Regions from separate parts of the Homo sapiens genome. Here regions 2 and 3 are each reported to be linked to region 1. Evidence: microRNA targets listed by miRTarBase, many of them from high-throughput screens and not tested one by one. Region 1 holds a microRNA gene; each other region holds the end of a gene's coding sequence.
What was found. Region 1 holds the annotated microRNA hsa-miR-23b-5p (UGGGUUCCUGGCAUGCUGAUUU, at 1,209-1,230, opposite strand). A microRNA usually pairs through its seed, bases 2 to 8, with sites in the 3' UTR of a target mRNA and lowers its output. Matches are read on the target gene's strand: a 7mer-m8 pairs with bases 2 to 8, a 7mer-A1 pairs with bases 2 to 7 and ends in A, and an 8mer does both.

Region 2: the mRNA of C6orf132 is a reported target of hsa-miR-23b-5p. Seed matches in the 3' UTR shown: 8mer at 764-771 and 7mer-A1 at 1,805-1,811.
Region 3: miRTarBase lists ADAT1 as a target of hsa-miR-23b-5p. Seed matches in the 3' UTR shown: 7mer-A1 at 1,711-1,717.

The regions. Positions count from the first base shown.
Region 1 is chr9:95,083,271-95,086,456 of GRCh38, reverse strand. It overlaps MIR23B (microRNA 23b), which reads right to left and starts at 1,249; the gene lies at 1,153-1,249. All of the region lies in intron 16 of AOPEP (aminopeptidase O (putative)), which reads right to left. MIR27B (microRNA 27b) reads right to left here and starts at 1,012; the gene lies at 916-1,012. It overlaps MIR3074 (microRNA 3074), which reads left to right and starts at 363; the gene lies at 363-443. It also overlaps MIR24-1.
Region 2 is chr6:42,101,130-42,104,129 of GRCh38, reverse strand. It overlaps C6orf132 (chromosome 6 open reading frame 132), which reads left to right. Exons shown (of 5, transcript NM_001164446.3): 5 at 252-3,000. The coding sequence ends at 369. Among named protein-coding and RNA genes, the nearest start is that of C6orf132, 40 kb to the left of the region's middle.
Region 3 is chr16:75,597,464-75,600,463 of GRCh38, forward strand. ADAT1 (adenosine deaminase tRNA specific 1) reads right to left here. Exons shown (of 10, transcript NM_001324445.2): 10 at 1-2,885. The coding sequence ends at 2,753. Among named protein-coding and RNA genes, the nearest start is that of ADAT1, 24 kb to the right of the region's middle.

The sequences.
Region 1 (3,186 bases):
GCGTACACAATAGCTGCTAGGAGTACCCATTTCAGACACGCACCCACTCTAACTGTTCTCAGAAAGTCTCAGCTCACCTCGCCGTGGGAGAGCTGGGCCCTGCCTCCCTTACACATGGGGGCAAACGGCCCCCTGCTGGCACTGTGTCCTGCCTTCAGGCCTGGGAGCTCTTAACTTTCTGCCAACAGGGTTTTCCAAGTCTACAAACCCCCACGCCGCAGGAGCACATGCAGATGACTGGCACCGTGCTGCCGCCGGGCCGGGGTGGACGCAGGGTGGACGCGGGCCTGTCTGCCGCGAGTGGGAGCCCCAGCTCTCCTGAGCCTCGGGCACTTACAGACACGAAGGCTTTTTGCTCAAGGGCTCGACTCCTGTTCCTGCTGAACTGAGCCAGTGTGTAAAATGAGAACTGATATCAGCTCAGTAGGCACCGGAGGGCGGGTCCAATCGACAGCCCGGAGAAGCAGCGCCTCAGCTGGGAGCTCCGTGGGCACCGTCTGCTGGCGCAGGAGACGCGAAGGCCTGGACTGCAAATACAAGAGAGAGTTCACCGCGCCCAGAACAACAGGAGCTCCTCCGAAAGCCCCGCCCCGCCCCGCTCACAGCCATGAGCTACCACATGATTTCACACGACTTAGGTGATGCATTTGGTTTTAGTTTTTTGTAAGAAGAATTTTTGCAACTTTCAATACATTTGACCTTTCAGACAGATGTCCGATTAGTGCATGTTTCTGTGGACAGACTTAAGGACTCAGTACATGGCTAGCATTCCCAGCAGGAGACAGTGCATCCTTGGGGTCAAGTGGTCTCTCATCCTCCAGGATCGCGCTCCGCACCCAAGCTGACTGTGCAGCAGCGGCCGGCCCGTCAGCAACGGCCTCTGCCCCAGCGGCTCCAACTTAACTGTCCCCATCTCACCTTCTCTTCAGGTGCAGAACTTAGCCACTGTGAACAAAGCGGAAACCAATCACTGTTCACCAATCAGCTAAGCTCTGCACCTTGTTAGAGAGGTCATCGCTGGGCATAAATAAAGGGACGGTGACCGGTGAGCATCTTCCTCAGCTGGTGGCTTCTTTTGTTTCCAAAGAAGAGCTACGAGATGCACCTGTTCTCCAATCTGCAGTGAGCGCGACCACGGTTTCTGGAGGAGCAGCCAAGGTCGTGGTTGCGTGGTAATCCCTGGCAATGTGATTTTAATCTTAAGTCACAAATCAGCATGCCAGGAACCCAAGCAGCCAGAGCACCTGAGAGCAGCGCCACCCCGTGCTGTCTGCACACACTGGGCTTCCGCGGAAGGACGCCGGCGACACTGCCGCCTTCACGCCTGTTATGCTAGCAAACAGGTGGAGTTTCTGTTTGTTGTTCGTTTAGTTGGCATCCTAGAGGTATAATTTCTTGAATCAAAGGGACTCCAGAGATGACCATAAAAATGCCAGTGCAGCTTTGGAACTGAAGAAAAATGCAGGGACCGGCCATGCGACACACACAATTGCTAAAGGCAGCTGTCCTTGCTATTAGTTTACTGCCTCTAACCCTTGGGGACAAGATCCCTTCTCTCCAGGCAGATTCTAGCTGCCCTGGGAAGGCTTTGGGGACTCTCAAGTCAGGAGGTCCCCCTGCTGGAAGGGGCCCTGGGACAATCCCGGCCACTGTTCCTCACGGGGACTGGTTGGGGGGCAGGCTTGCAACCCCTGGATGCATCTGGAGGGGTGGGGACAGGATCGAAGATGCTGGGGAGGGGGAAAAGGGAGACTTGTGACCAAGATGACTCCTTTGCCTGCCTGGGCAAAAATTCCCCATAAAGAGTGGCGAGGGGTGTGCCCTGTGGTGCTGCTCCAAAACCTGCACCAAAGGGAATGATGAAAGGACTAGCTGGCCTTGTAGTTTCACACACTTTAACACGTACGCCACGAAATAACAAAACGAAAGAGAAACACCATTTACACTGATTACTATTATGAGGCCGGCAGTGAGGTAAGTGCACAGTCTGTGTGCCGCCAGCCCGTCCTGGAGGGGAGCCGCGTCAAGTCTGCAGCAGGCGTTTCGCTACGAGACGCTCAGTCCCGTTTCCCTTTCCTGGCACACATGGTTCCTGACTCTTCTGGAAGAATATGATCATGCTTCTGAAAAACTTTTTATTTCTTTTCATTATTAGAGTTCTTTCAGATAAATAAGCTACTTAAACACGTTACACAGAAATGGTTTTCATAAGCACAAAACATTAGAAGAAAACTCAATGTTCAAAACTGAGTGAAGAATATCAACACCAAATATTCAATATCCATGAAAAATTATAGAGAAGCTATAACACGAAAAATGCTTCAGATTTGATAAAGTTTTTTTAAAGATACAAAATTAGACATCCCCTATTAATATCATATAAAACACTGAAGAAAAACGGAGCAGACACAGAAATAATGATGATTGTTAGAGAAAAAAAATCTCACAGCTATCCTAACAAAACCTTGTGTACTACCGCTAGGTTGCTTTAATAGTGTAGAAACCCATACTGAGCAACTAACTGCTAGGAAGTAAATCTAACAGGTTAATTCCAGGCACAATTAACAGAGGAAGTGATTTAAATAATCTAGGACTCCAATAGAAGCCAGGGGAGAAATTCCGCTCCAACACAACAAAGCAAAAAGTAGGACCTGCCCTCAAGACACAGGGTCATGGAGGCCATATGCCACGTGTGCTGTGTGCGCCGCGGGTGCTGTGTGGTGCGTGCACTGTGTGTGCCACATGTGCTCTGTGTGGTGCGTGCGGTGTGTGCTGTGTGTGCCGCAGGTGCTCTGTGTGGTGCACGCGCTGTGTGTGGTGTGTGTGCTGCATGCAGTGTGCGCGCTACGTGTGGTGCATGTGCTGTGTGTGCTCTGTGTTGTGCATGCGCTGTGTGTGGTGTGTGTGCCGCGTGTACTCTGCGTGGTGTGTGTGCTGTGGGTGCTCCAGGTGCTCTGTGTGGTGTGTGTGCTGCGTGTGCCGCGTGTGCTCTGTGTGGTGCGTGCGCTGTTTGGTGTGTATGCTGCATGTGCCGTGTGTGCTCTGCGTGGTGCGTGCGCTGTGTGTGCTGTGTGTGCCGCGTGTGCTCTGTGTGGTGCGTGCGCTGTGTGGTGTGTGCTGTGCGTGCTCTGTGTGGTGCGTCCTCTGGTGTGTGTGTGCTGCATGCAGTGTGTGTGCTACGTGTGG
Region 2 (3,000 bases), not on the chromosome of region 1:
ACAGGCCAGGAGTGAAAGAGTTCTGAGTGAAAGGCTGTTAGGCATGTTCTCCGGCCAGCAGGGCCCAGACCAGAATGGGAGCCCTGTTTGTGATGTCTGCGGTCCCTCCCTGGGGTCGATAAGCCCAGGGCTTGTCGGGGCAAATACAGAAGTATGAGCAGCATCTTTTCCTCTCGGTCCCTCGGGGAGATGAGAGACGTGTTGGCTAACCAGCTGCAGATATTCACCTCACATCTCTTGCTCTCCCCCAGGTCTCCCTACACCACCACCCGCTATGGAAGCCCCATCAACACGTTCACCGTGAGGCCTGGGACCCGCCATCCCATCTCCTATGTCTGCTCAGGGGCCCATCGGAAAGCCACCTCCTGAGCCAGGGGTTCTCTTAGCTCTACTCCAACAAACTGTGTCTTTAAGGATCTGGGCACTTGTTTCTTGTGGGGGGTGGGAGGTACACAGCAGGTGTTGGGCGACCTGACTCAGACACAGAGGAGTCTTTGATCCCCAAAGACCAACGATGAGAAGCAGTGGCCCAGGAAGACCGAGAGTGGGCTTCTGTTTCCCAAAGCGCTGGTGTGACTGTGGACTGTTTACACGTGGGGGGTGGGAGGGGAAGGAGGGTAGAGAGAAGGAACCATTAAGGACCTGGGCGCTGAGTTTCTGCTCTCTGGTACTATCTGCTTTAGCAAGAGTTATTTAAAACAGTTTTACAAGCACGGCCTACTGAGCAGGTTCTGAAAGCAAGGGGTGGGGCACTGACTGAACTGGAACCCATCGAGATAGCTGTGATTGCCTGTCAGGCCCTTGCAAAGGGCTGAGGCCCAGCTCTGTCTGGTGGGTGTGCAGGGCACCGAAGGGAGATCTTTAGCCTCCATCACCTGCCATCCCAAGCAAGAGTGGACACCTGGGGTTCCTAGCCGCATTGAGGTGGGACCAGGAATGTGTATGTATAACATGTGGAGAAGGACCATGTGTGGGGTGGGGAGTGAAGCTCCCACATGTGGAATGGAAGCCCTTTGCATTGGCCAAGGGCAGAGGTGGGAGATTGATGGTTCATTTTTCCTTGGCCCTAGCCCTTAGCTACAGGGAGGCCTAGAGAGAGGACACTTGGCAAGTTTAGGATGGGAAACAAGGTTAAGCCTGGCTTTGCTATTCAGACCTGTGCAGCCCTGATTTTGGGGACTGGGCCCAAGGAGCCATGAGTCTTAGGCTTGACACTAGGGGCCTTACATGGCCAGGTCTCATATGGGATTTGGAGAAGGCATTTTTCCTAACACTGATACTACAAGTCACCAATACTCTTGATGCCTTAAGATGCTAGAAAGCCTTGGAGAGTGGAGGCAGCAGAGATGGGAATGGAGGTCTGAAGAAGCTTGCTGCTGTTGGGGAATGTGTTTGGGAAAGTCAAGAGTGGTAGGATTGGTTGGCTGGGCGCGGTGGCTCACACCTGTAATCCCAGCACTTTGGGAGGCCGAGGCCGGTGGATCACTTGAGGTCAGAAGTTCGAGACCAGCCTGCCCAAATGGTGAAACCCCATCTCTACTAAAAATACGGAAAAAAAAAAAAAAAGAGTGCTAGGATTGGGCCAGTTAAGAGCAGGGGAGACCTGGCTGGGCATGGTGGCTCACACCTGTAATTCTAGCACTTTGGGAGGCTGAGGCGGGTGGATCATGAGGTCAAGAGATTAAGACCATCCTGGCCTACATGGCGAAACCCTGTCTCTACTAAAAATAAAAAAATGACCTGGGCATGGTGGTGGGCGCCTGTAGTCCCAGCTACTCGGGGCGCTGAGGCAGGAGAATCGCTCGAACCCAGGAGGTGGAGGTTGCAGTGAGCCGAGATTGCACAATTGCACTCCAGCCTGGCGACAGAGCGAGACTCGTCTCAAAAAAAAAAAAAAAAAAAAAAAAAGGAGCAGGGGAGACCTATCAGTAGGGTGACCACGTGTCCTTTGCCTGGGCAGTCCAGGTTTATGCTTGTTTTCCAGTGAATTAGACCCCCTTCCACTTTTCAAAAAAGTCCTGGTTTAGATGCTGTGATCACCAAACATATCAGGAAACAATATTCCTTGGTCTTGCTTCCCTATCTTCAGGTACTGGTGGGCCAAATTCCTGGGACCAGGTCAAGGTGGGCTGCCTCAGTAAGAAGGAAGGACTGGAGAGTGCCCATTTCAGAGGAGCAGGCTGGTGGGGGCCAGCCAGAAAGTAGTTCCCTTTGGGGGGAAGATGTTGGACCTTTATTATTTGTGGTAACCAGCCGAGGCTGGTTGTCAGGACAGCAGGTGAGCCACTTTAGGGAAGAAAGTGCAGGGGTGGGTGGATGCCCAGATTACCAAGGCCAGCCACCCTGATGGGGTAGGGTCTGGTTATCTGTGTTCAAGAAGCAAATCCCACCCCAGCCCCAGCACTAGCTCTCTATGTATGTATTTTCCCTGTACAATGTTTTATAAAAGAGATCATTAATTTATCTGCTATGTTAAGGCTCGAGGGGTGGGGCGTAGACTCTCAGCTGTATATTGCTCTGGGGTGGGCAGGGAAGGCTGAGTCTCACTTGACTTGGAAGATAAACAGGCCAGTTTGGACTGGCCTCCAGCTCCGTGGCTGTGTTTGTCTAACAAGGATTTGGGTAACTACTGGATACAAGCCACTGTGCTTAGTATGGATAGACTGCCATCAGCTCACCCACATGACTCCTGTTCATGGCAAGCTAATAGTCTGTCTGGTGGAAGAGGATTGAAAAAGCACACAAAAACATCATAAATTACAAGGAGTAGTAAGAAGGAAAAAACAGGGAACGTGAGAGAATAACTAGCGAGTGGGGAGAGGAGTGGATTTACTTTAACAGGGTAGTCAGGGAAGGCCTCTTGTGGTGGTGACATACTGATTTAGGCAAAGCGTCCAGCACGTGCCTAGCGCTTAGTAGTTGCTCAGCAAATGGCATCTTTGGGTGATGAATACCTCACATTTGTATATGGCCTGTCACAGTTTTCCATAAAGCTTTTTT
Region 3 (3,000 bases), not on the chromosome of region 1:
CAGTCCCCAACCTTTTTGGCACCAGGGACTGGTTTCATGGAAGATAATTTTTCCACAGATCCGGGGTGGGGATAGGGGGATAGTTTCGGGATGACTGAAGTGAATTACATTTACTGTGCACTGTATTTCTATTATTATTACATCGTAATACATGATGAAATAATTATACAACTCACCATAAGGTAGAATCAGTAGGAGCCCTGAGCTTGTTTTCCTGCAACTAGACAGTCCCATATGGGGGTTATGGAAGACACTGACAGATCATCAGGCATTATATTCTCATAAGGAGTGTGCAACCTAGATCCCTTGCATGCACAGTTCACAATAGGATTCACGCTCCTATGAGAATCTAATGCCACTGCTGGTATGACAGGAGGAGGAGCTACGGCAGAAATGTGAGCGATGGGGGGCAGCCATAAATACAGATGAAACTTCAAGTGCTCACCTGTTACTTATCTCCTGCTGTGTGACCTTGTTCCTGACAGGCCACAGACAAGTAATGGTCTGTGGCTCTGGGGCTGGGGGCCCCTGCCCTAAAGCTTTTAGAGGAAGCAGAAGCCCCACCAACAACCTGTTTGGACTTCTAGCCTCCAGAACTGAAAGGGGATACAGTCTTTTCTTCTTATTTTTTGAGATGGAGTCTTGCTCTGTCACCCAGGCTAGAGTGCAGTGGCACGATCCTGGCTCACTGCAACCTCCACCTCCTGGGTTTGAGAGATTCTTCTGCCTCAGCCTCCTGAGTAGTTGGGACTATAGGCGTGCGCCAATACACCTGGCTAATTTTTGTATTTTTAGTAGAAAGGGGCTTCACCATGTTGGCCAGGATGGTCTTGATCTCCTGACGTCGTGATCTGCCCACCTCGGCCTCCTAAAGTGTTGGGATTACAGGCGTGAGCCACTGCACCCGGCCAGGAATACATTTCTGTTGTCTTAAGCCACCCAGCTTGTGGTACTTCGTTAAGAAACAGCTCTAGGAAACTATTACAGGCACAAAATTTGTGATGAAAATGTTCTAAAATTGATGGTTGCACAACTCTGTGGATATACTAAAAAAATTTTTTTTTTTTTTTTTTGAGACAGGATCTCACTCTGTCACCCAGGCTGGAGTGCAATGGCATGATCTTGACTCACTGCAACCTCCGCCTCCCAGGTTCAAGTGATTCTCCTGCCTCAGCCTCCCAAGTAGCTGGGACTACAGGCGTGCACCACCATGCCCGGCTAATTTTTGTATTTTTAGCAGAGACGGGGTTTCATCATGTTGGCCAGACTGGTCTCGAACTCCTGACCTCAGGTGATCTGCCTGCCTCAGCCTCCCAAAGTGTTGGAATTACAGGCGTAAGCCACCGTGCCCGGCCTAAAAACTTTTAAAATGTATACTTTAGTTGGGTGAATTTTATGGTCTGTGAATTATATCTCAATACAACTGTTATTTAAAAATATTTATAGCCACAAAATGCTGAAGAACCAATAAGGACCTTGAGTAACCCCAACATGGGAGCTTCCATTTTCAGTCAATCATTCAAGGTCTGAAGTTGAGTGTTAAACATTCGATGTTAAAACAGGATTGGCTGCTGGGTCTATTGCTGATTTGCTGCAGGGCCTTTTGGCTTCTTTTTTTTTTTTTTTTTTTTTTTTTGAGATAGGGTCTTGCTCTATCACCCAGGCTGGAGTGCAGCGGTACGATCTTTGCTCACCACTACCTCCGCCTCCTGGGTTCAAGCAATTCTCCTGCCTCAGCCTCCCGAGTAGCTAGGATTACAGGTGTGCGCCACCATGCCCGGCTAGTTTTTGCATTTTTAGTAGAGACAGGGTTTCACCAGGTTGGCCAGGCTGGTCTTGAACTCCTGACCTCAAGTGATCTGCCTGCCTGGGCTTCCCAAAGTGCTGGGATTACAGGCCTGAGCCACCAAGCCTGGCCACCTTTTGGCTTTTTGGACAGAACTCTTTCAATTGTAAGTCAGAAAACCAACACAAACAGGCTTAATCAAAATAACAACAGGAATCTGTCTCACATAATTGAGACATCTAAACAGTGTTACTAGATCTTTGATTCTCTTGGCTGTTTCCTTTGTTGCCTTCATTCTTTGCTGGCTTTCTCTAGGTAGTAGGAAAAGATGGCCACCGGCAGTCCCATGATTATGTGACCCTTACAGCTCCAGATCAAAACAGAAAGCCTTTCCTGATACCTCTGAGAACAAGTCCAGGGCAGTCCAGGGCTGGCTCACAGGCTATTCCTAGAGCCAGGGAGTAAGGTTAGCTTCAGCCAAGTCTGAGGCACAGAGCAGGATCACTGAAGAATGGGAAAAGAATGGCTCCCTGAAGAAAGAAAGGCTGGGAATACAAAATATATATTCGCTATGCTAGGCAAAGCTGTAAAACTTGCAGAGCGTCAAACATCATTTCAGCTCAATAAATATTTGCTGAATCAATGTAGGAACCCATAAAACAGAGCTGCTGCAGAGTACTTTCAAAGCATCATGTTCCAAACTCTGATTTCATATTTTAGAGAAGCAATAAAACACAATGGAAGTCAGATAGTGAGGTCATTAGTGAGATGCCATTTTAGCAGAGAGCTACTTCAATCAAGTATAGCTTGCTCTAAGTTCCAGATTCCATCTGTATTACACAACAGAGATGCAAAGCTCAGAAAGAATGTTCCCTGATTTAACTACCAAAAAAGCTAAGACTTGTCCTGCGTGGAGGAAGGCAGTTCAGGATGAAGGGTCCTGCTACCAGAGCAAACATTTCCTTCTCACTTGAACTGGTGATAATCCGGTGGGTTTCTGATCCAGGATCCAAACACCTGCTTCCGGAGTGTGCTCCAGGCTTCCTGGTAAGAGGACGCAGCCTCCTTGTACTCCTGGTAGGTATCCAGCTTCTGCACCCTAATGCACACAGGCCACCAAATACACAGGTTCTCATTGAATAGCCCACCCCAGGGGCCACCAGACACCTGAGCAAGCAACTGGACAGACTTGTAATGAGACTTAGGTAGAGAAG